Linked DNA regions of Homo sapiens. The protein of the gene in region 1 purifies or fractionates together with the protein of each later gene. This does not show direct contact. Each region holds a gene or a part of one and is shown on either strand. Other genes may lie near its edges.

Evidence for each region. The genes of interacting proteins can lie anywhere in the genome.
Region 2: the proteins of MLYCD (region 1) and TAMM41 purify together in Homo sapiens (co-immunoprecipitation; one large-scale study listed by IntAct). This does not show direct contact.

What each region holds. Positions count from the first base shown.
Region 1 is NC_000016.10:83,904,021-83,909,114, reverse strand, and holds part of MLYCD (malonyl-CoA decarboxylase, mitochondrial), read right to left. Parts: intron 2,129-5,094; coding exon 2,016-2,128; intron 990-2,015; coding exon 833-989; intron 1-832. UniProt on the Homo sapiens protein: Catalyzes the conversion of malonyl-CoA to acetyl-CoA.
Region 2 is NC_000003.12:11,811,590-11,815,885, forward strand, and holds part of TAMM41 (phosphatidate cytidylyltransferase, mitochondrial isoform a precursor), read right to left. Parts: intron 1-4,296. UniProt on the Homo sapiens protein: Catalyzes the conversion of phosphatidic acid (PA) to CDP-diacylglycerol (CDP-DAG), an essential intermediate in the synthesis of phosphatidylglycerol, cardiolipin and phosphatidylinositol.

The DNA of each region.
Region 1 (5,094 bases):
CTCTTTCACACACAAACATTGTAAGGGAATGTGTTTCTCCTTGGTGATCAGGAATGTCTGCTCATTTGCCCTACTCAGCTTCTCTAACTTCTCAGCAGGACACCTGCTTAGGGCACTCATCTTGTGATGGGCCATCATCCACTTAGCTTCCTAACAGCCACTCATGTCCTCTTGGTCTGAGCAAACCTGCAATGCCCCAGGGGTCTCATGCTCCCTGCCACCTATCTTTAGCACTCCTATTTCCAGACCCTGCAATGTGCTCCCTGGTTCTTCTGCCCCCACGGGCCTGCAGGAGTGTTTCAGACATTCTTGCCAAACTCATCCAGGAGCAGAGCAGCTTGCCACAGACGGGGCTATCAACCACAAGTCCCATAACCTCCACTCGCCAAGGAGTGTCCTCGGCCCACATCAAGCATAAGGGATGGAGTGCCTCTTTCAATTTTCTAATCAAGTATCTTTCAAAACTCCCCACAGGCATTTAACAAAAGCTGTAAAGGTAAACTATGTATGAATCAGGTATCTGTCCCTTCTTCCTTCACAATTATTTTCTGCCTCACAAACATGTTCTGTGATAGACTTTAACTGTATCTCAACCTAAGATCAACACAGCCAGATGAATGCTCGCCTTGCTCCATAACTGTCTGCCTGTTACACTTCTACGCTCTACACCTACAAATCTGGAGATTTTATTTAACCAATTTAAAAAAGCCCAAAACCATTTATTTAAAAAAAAAAAAAAGGAGGATAAAATCAAGTAAAAACAAAACAAAACAAAAAACACAAGGGGCTCTATGGGGTGCCCATCTTGTCCCGAATTGACCATCGCAGGTACCTGGATGTTGCTGGAGATGTCACCAGTCAGTGCCACGTGCAAAACGACCAGGGGCTCCCCAGGGGTCGAACAGTGAGAAAAGAAGTAACACCTTCTGTAGGGCCCAACGCGGCGCTTCATGTCCATCCAGTTTTTTACAGGATGCACAGCCTCAGCCCTGGGGCGGAATTTATAAAGAGACAAGACAAATGCATAATTCACAAGCAACGGCTGCTGACTCCTATTCATACTATTCGTCTAAGTCAAACAAGTTCTTTAAATAGAGCTTTAATGGACTCTTCTGGAAAATTCAAAGAAAGTCATTTTCATGAGAAACAGCACCCACTGAGAGGAACTACAGTGAATGACCATTTTACACACAAAATTGTGCTCCAGTTTTAACCCCAGTTTTAAAAGGAGTTTGTGAGGCTCCGGGGAAGGATTCATGCAGATTTTAACGTGAAACCTAATCAAACGCTTGGTGTTGAACACTGTCTTTTCTTTCCTTGGGATCTCTGTGAAGCCGTCAGTGCTGCAATCAGGGGGCTCATCTGGTGTCTTCCAGCAATCTCGCCCCACCGCTATTTTGTTTTCAGCATGTGAAATGGCAGCAGGCACTGTCAGCCCTTTGAATTGAATTGGTTACATTTCAAATAGGACACTTTTCAAACCATGGATTCCATGGGACAACATGTAATGTGAAGATGCCTACGTGCAAAGGTAGTGAAGGCACCGTGACATGCTAGCCTGTGTCATACGGGTCCTGGATGTAACTAACACATGATATAGTTTGTTTAGAGATTTTAACTCAGGGAGAAATCTTAACCACCAGGTGGGCTAAATACTGTTTTGATTACGAATGCAAACGCTTGGTCCAGTGAGTTTCTACAACTCTGATCACGGGGTCTTGGGACGAGCGAAAATGGGTGTGTTTGCTTTAAATAAGAGGACACAAATAAGACCTCACACGCAGGTCACTGACAGACATATCAGTTTCTCTTGGTGCCCTTTCGTCTTCCTCCATAATCTTAGTATCATGTGTGGTGACAGCCGCAGCATTTGCAAATACTGTGTTTGGATTTTATTAGACTTGAAATAAACTGTACATATGAATGGAGATAGATTAGCTTTTAGCCAATATAAAACATACACAAATATATATGAAAAATGTATGTACAAAGAAAATGAAAACCGTAATACTTACTCACTGATTTTCTGAAGCACTTCACACGGTGAATGCCAGGTAACCCGTTCTAGGTTCAGGAACCCGGAGGAAAACCATTCTGAGAGCATTCCTTTCAGCACCCCATTCATTTCCTGAAAAGGAGAAGATAAATCCCAGGCCTCCAATGTGCGACAGATCAAGCCCATCTCTGTGTTGTGGTCAGCACAAGGAATGAAAACACTCAAGCACGATACATAAGACAATTGTGCAAGACAACTCTCCAAACAGCTTTTCCCAAGATTCCTCTGTCAGACATCTTATCTCAAACCAAGTCAGGCTTTCTTTCGTTCAACGCTCTATTTAGACTTAACTACTTCAGTCTGTTAAGACCTCTGAAGGAAACAATTCAATTTGAACTAAGTTGCCCAAATCAAATAATATCTTCCAATTCGTTCACCATAGTGAGCATACTAATCATATAAAATCAACATAACAATGAAAGATGCACTGTAAGGGAAACACTAAGACAGCAAGGGTGTCAACAGCACTGTCCTCATCCTCTCGGGAACCTTCTTTGATACGTCAAAACATTACGCCTACATTTCCTAAGAAAGACAAGTACTTGGTTCAGGAACCCTATTTCATCAACTCAGAGATGTACATTTTCATATTTTAACATCTCTCAAGTCAGGATGCATCTTTCGAATGATGGCGGGTCACAGACTAATTGGCAGCATTTTTGTTTTAAGAGACGGGGTCTCACTCGGTCACCCAGGCTGGAGTGCAACAGCATGAACACGGCTCGCTGCAGCCTTGACCTCCTGGGCTCATGTGGTCCTCCTGTCTCAGCCCCCCAAGTAGCTGGGACTGCAGGTGAGCGCCACCAAGCCTGGATAATTTTTTTTTGTCTTTTTTGTAGAAATGGGGTTTTGCCACGTTGCCCAGGCTAGTCTCGAGCTCCTGAGCACAGGCAATCTGCCTGCCTCGGCCTCTCAAAGTGCTGGGATTACAGGCGTCAGCCACTGTGCCCCGCCGTAACTGGCAGCATTTTTAACCTACCTTAGAGGGACATAAAATAATAGCGTATCTGGCAACCAATGCATTTCAGAGTTGATGAAATTATCCTAATTTTGCCTCACTTATTTATATTGTATCTACTTCCAAAAATGATGTGAATTGACTTGACCACCCAAGATACATCTGCACTGAAGCTTTTCCAGCAAGAGCAGAACACAAGGCCCTGAGCAGGAGCAGCGTCGCCTCGGTGCTGCCTGCACAGCCACAGCTTGTTGTTCCCCGATGGCTGTACCCCTTTTCTTTCAAATTAACAGAAGCCTCACTTTTCAGCTAGGGACACAGCTGTCCAGAACAAAGATTGCACTGCGGCTGGGGGCAGCCATGTGACAGAGTTCTGGTCAATGAGGGGTAAGCAGAGGTCTCCTGCAGCCACTTTGGGGAACTTGAAAAGACAGCAGGAGCAGGCCCTTGGCCCATCTTTTTCTTTGTCCTTTCCACTGCAGACTGGAAGGCGGTGTGATGGCTGGCATTGGAGCAGCCATCCTGGGCCACGACGTGGCTTTGGAGATGAAGGTTTTTCTCGGCAGAGCAACAAGATTCAAGTCTGAATCCACCAAGAGCACCAAAGAGCAGAATCAGCTCTGGGCTGCCCACCTCTAGACTTTCACATGACAGACAAACTTCTGTCATATTCAAATCACTGTTATTTTGGGTCTTTGTTACTCATAAACTACATAGTAACAGATCCACTGAACATTATTATTAAATAACAGTAAACATCTCAGGACATCTGATACAAGAATGACCTTCTGAATCTCTCTACAAGGGTCATAAAGAACACAATGGGCAACACCTATAAGAATGGCTTTACAACAGCTAGAATTTTTTTTTTTTTTTGAGAGATGGAGTCTTCCTCTGTCACCCAGGCTGGAGTGCAGTGGTGCAACCCTGGCTCACTGCAACCTCTGCTCCCTAGGTTCAAGCGATTCTCCTGTCTCAGCTTCCAAATTTTATAAAACAATTTTACATTTTAATCCCTGTTAAAGGGTGAAAGGACTCAGAACTTTGACGCCTGAGAAAGAGTTGCAGGTTTTGGGGTGATGGCTCAGAGAAGTTTTCGGAAGGAGATGAGGTCTCCTTTTACATGTTTAAGCACTAGGGCACGAAAGAGGCCACAAATTTGTTCTGTGTGACCCCATGGGGGCCGGGGAAGGAAATCTAGGACTGACTGGTGGAAGTCATGGGCAGTCAGATGTGGACTCAATTTAGTGTAAAGAGGAACTTTTGAATAGCTGGAGCTGTCCACAGAGGTCATCCTGGGAGACGGTGACCCTCAGCACTGGAAGCCATCAAGCACAGGTGGACAGAACTCAACGGAGCTGTTTGAAAACGGATTTAAGCATTAGATAGACAGCTGGACCAGAAGATCTTTGCAATTCCTTTTAACTCTACATTCCATGACTCAATCTCCTTTACTTGGTTGTAAACGCCATAAAAGCAGGATCCACTTCTGATTCATTTTTATAGTTCGCAAAGCATTCACTAATAGATTGATATCAAATGAAAAAGATGGAAAAATGGAATGAATCGTGATTAGGAAGTAGCAAGAGGGCAGGATGAAAGAGATCATTTGCTAGGTGACACAGAATGGCCCTTTGTAAAACTGTACTTTCTGCATTTGACTATAGCAATTCTTAATCTTCCTGGGATCCTCTCACACTCTTACGTGCTAAAAACCATAGGCCCTGCCCCCAAAACACTGCAAATACATTAGTAAAATTGTGCATACGTTTTCCTGGGGTACATGGACTCCTCTGATACTTATCTATGGACCATCCCAGGGGCCAGGAGGGCTTCTGTACCCCAGTTTAGGAACGGATGAGCTGAGCTCTGCGTAAGAGGTACTGGTATCTGTCTTACATTCGTGATATGAAAAAAGCTGGAAATACCTAGTTTTACTATCAATTTAATATTAATTATGAAAGAAATGGTTTGGCTGATGAAAGCTCCTCCCCTACAGATCTCTTCATTCTATTTTGGGCTCCTGACAGCTACAAAATGTGACACTGGTACACGAGAACTGGGAATCCAGGCTAAAGGT
Region 2 (4,296 bases), on another chromosome or scaffold:
AATAACGAAAGTGAAAGCATTCAGCTAAACTGTGAAAGTCAAATTGCATTTTAAAAGCGGACATGGATACAATTATTATATGTCAACTTAAGAAAAAAGCAGATATGGAAAAAACTTTATATGATTCCATGCATATGAACTGTCCAGAACAGAAAAATTACAGAGACAGAAGTGGATTAGTGGTTGCCTGGGTGAGGGGAGAGCTGGGGACGGCTAAAGGGTATGGAGTGACAGAAATATTCTAAAATTACATTGTGGTGATGGCTGTGCAGCTCTGTGACTATACTATAAACACTAGCTTTTATGGTGTATGAGGTATTCATCAATAAAGCTAATATTTTGTTATTATTATTTTTGAGACAGAGTCTCGCTCTGTTGCCCAGGCTGGAGTGCAGTGGCGCGATCTCAGCTCGCTGCAACCTCCATCTCCTAGGCTCAAGTGATTCTCATGCCTCAGCCTCCCGAGTAGCTGGGATTACAGGCGCACACCACCATGCCTGGCTAATTTTTGTATTTTTAGTAGAGATGGGGTTTCACCATGTTGGCCAGGCTAGTTTTGAACTCCTGGCCTCAACTGATCCACCCACCTCAGCCTCCCAAAGTGCTGGGATTAAAGGCATGAAGCTGCCATTCTCTCCCCCTGGCCAAAAGAGTAAAGAAAAAATAAAACCATATCCCAGGACGAATGGCAGAGATGAGCACCACCTGTAGACCTAAAAGATGCAAGGGTAAGGCAGATAATTTTATGTGTCAACTCAGAGCAGTGGCACAGCCTGAAGACACTGTCCTGCGAGGATGAGTTGTGCTACACATCCTGAATCAATCACCATTACGCTGTACTATATTCCCAACTGGCAGAAGACATGGGCCTGGGGACCAAGGGTAGAAAGAGAAGTGACCTTGCTTATCGTCATTCCCAGGGACCCACTTGGGAACACTTTGCTTCCTATCACTACAGCTCTAGATCTGTGGGTCTAGAGGTCCCAGTTCCCAGAGAAGGGATGCTTCTACCAGAGGACATAGTAAGCATCCCATTAACTTTAAGTTACGACTGCCACCCAATTAATTTAGAATCCCATGCCGTAAGTCCAGCAGACAAGGCAATGAGTCACTACACTGGCAGAAGCAATCGGCCCTGGTCATCAGGAGCTGGGGTGCTGATACACGTCTCTTAGAGTACCCCTTGCCCAATTTTGATGGTTAGTGGACAAGTGCGGTAGCCAGGGTCCTCCAGACTCCTCCGAGATGAGGGTCTGGGCCACCCTGTCTAGATAAGCAGAAGTGATAGATGAGGGTGAAGGGAATCTGGAGGAGTAGCAGAGATGGGAGAAGATGAGTCTCAGTTGCAGCCTCAAGGCCAGATACAGCACTGGGAGCTGTAGCTCAGTCCCCCAGTCTTATTCTTGTAAGTTTCCTGGGAAAAGAAACTGATGCGAAACTAGATCATGCAGGCTTTTATAGGCCATAGGGAGGATTCTGGATACCTTTATTTTTATAGTTAGAGAAAATTCCTAGCCCTTTTCCCTTGTTCAGTTTCTAGAAAGTTGGTAGACAGACACATTATACTTCCCTGTCCTCTAGCCAGAGAATAGAAGATCTCTGGAGAAATTCTACAGACACTGATATTTGAGATCCTCCAATAAAACAGCTAGGTCCTTGGCCAGGTGCAGTGGCTCACACCAGTAATCCCAGCACTTTGGGAGGCTGAAGCGGGCAGATTACTTGAGGTCAGGAGTTCAAGACTAGCTTGGCCAATATGGTGAAACCTCATCTCTACTAAAAATACAAAAATTAGCTGGGTGTGATGGTGCATGCCTGTAGTTCCAGCTATTTGGGAGGCTGAGGCACAAGAATCGCTTGAACTTGGGAGGCGGAGGTTGCAGTGAGCCGAGATTGCGCCACTGCACTCCAGCCTGGGCAACAAAGAAAGACTCCATCTCAAAAAAACAAAACAAAACAAAATAGCTAGGTCTTTGCCTCATAATCCTATAGTCAAGCCCACCAGTTGACAAGCCTGATATATCACAAAGAACTTCCAGCCTGTATTTTAGTGCCTCATTCTTTAAAAACAGGCCAGAGCCAGGAACGGTGGCTCTTGCCTGTAATCCCAGTACTTTGGGAGGCCAAGGCAGGAGGATCGCTTGAGCCCAGGAGTTCGAGACCAGCCAGGGCCAACAAAGTGGGACCCTGTCTCTACAAAAAAAAATTTAATGTCTCAGATCATATGGGTACAAATATATGTGTGTGTGTGTGTGTGTGTGTGTGTGTATGTATGTATATATATGTATATATGTATATATGTGTATATATGTATATATGTGTGTATATATGTATATATGTGTGTATATATGTGTATATATATGTATATATACATATACACACATACACACACACCTGTGTATACACACACACACACACACACACACACACATAAAAAAATCAGCTGGGCATAGTGGCATGGGCCTGTAGTCGCAGCTCCTCAAGAGGCTGAGGTGAGAGGATCACTTGAGTGCAAGAGTTCAAGGCTGCAGTGAGCTATGATCATGCCACTATACTGTAGCCTAGGTGACAGAGTGAAATCCCCTCTCAAATTGATTAATTCATTAATTAATTTAAAAAATCAGGCCAGGAAGGAAACTCAGACATTTGAAAAAAGCTTCTAACATAACAGACTAGAGTAAAAACAGACAAGAGGAACTAAGAGAAAGAAAACAGTGTGAGAGAACAAGACAAAATCTTCAAAAGTTATAATAAAGATCATTAAAGAGATTAGGAGAAAATAATGCATCCATAATACAAGAATAGGAAGCTATAAGAAAGAACATTTTGGGAAAATTAAAAATTTAGTAGAAGTGTTAGAAAACCAATCAGAAATATTCTCCCATAAAGCTAAATTTAATAAACGAAGAGACGAGAGAGAGAGAGAGAGAGAAAGGAAAAAAGGTTAAACCAGGAGGTCTAGCAACCACCTAACAGGAATCCCAGGAAGAACAAACTAAGAAAATGGGTATGAAGAAATAATTACAGAAATAATAAAAAAAATTCCTTAGAATTGAAGCTTATAAAATTCCAGATAGAAAAGGCCCACTGAGGCTGGGCGCTGTGGCTCACACCAGTTAACCCAATACTTTGGAAGACCAAGGTGGGAGGATGGCTTGAGCCCAGGAGTTTGAGACCAGCCTGGGCAATATGGTGAAACTGTTTCTACTAAAAACACAAAAACCAGCCAGGCGTGGTGGCGCGTGCCTGTAGTCCCAGTAGTTACTCAGGAGGTTGAGGTGGGAGAGTCACTTGAGCTTGGGAGTTTGAGGTCGCAGTGAGCTGGGATTACGCCTCTGCACTCTAGCCAGGGCAACTGAGCAAGGCCCTGTCAAAAAAGAGAAAGAAAGAAAAGAAAGAAAGAAAGAGCCCACCAAGTGACTGAATAATGAATGGAAAACAGACATAAATAAAGAAGGAAAATTATCTCCACCCTAGAATTTGATATCTAGCCAATACTATCTATCAAAGGGAGGGTAGAATTTTCAGAGGTATATAGTCTCAAAAACTTGCCTCCCTCACACCCTTTAAGAAGGTAATAAAAGACAAACTTCACTAATATCAGAGTATAAACCGTGGAAGAGGAAAATGCAAGACCCACAAAACCAAAAACTAGCACGGGGGAGGCAAAGGGAATTCTCAGGGTGATAATGAAGGGAAGGTGGAGGAGTGCGGCTGTGCAGTGAGCTAGAAAACAACCAGTTGAGAAAGGAACAGGGCAGGGGGCTCCAGGAAAAACATTCCTGTGAGAAACAAGAAACAGAAAATACCCAATAAATCTGTCTATAATGGGAAGAGTTTTACGGATCTGTCAAGAGTTTGAGGATGACTGACCTAAGCAACTGAAAAAATAAGACAACTATTAACTCCAGGAGAAACAAAGTTGTACAGGAAAAGGAACTTCATAATGCCACAGCTCATCAATAAAGAAAAGGCTGTCACAATAAAATAAACATTGAATATTAAGCTAACAAAAAATATGAAGTAACTTTATGTGAAGCATGAGGGCGTGAGGTAGAAGGGGAAGAGAATGTGTGTGCTAAGTGCATGTGTGTGAGTGTGTAATTGGTATAAGAATTGATGGGGTAGTGTAAGACGGTAAAAAAAATCCCCTTCTTCCAGGATGGCAAAAATAAAGTGTAAGATTGAAAAAAAATCAAGAAATAATAGTCGAAGCATATTATTTAGAACATGGAGGTGAATATCAGAAGAATCAGCTATAGAGACGAAAGCAGCTGCCTCTGGTAAGCAGGGCTG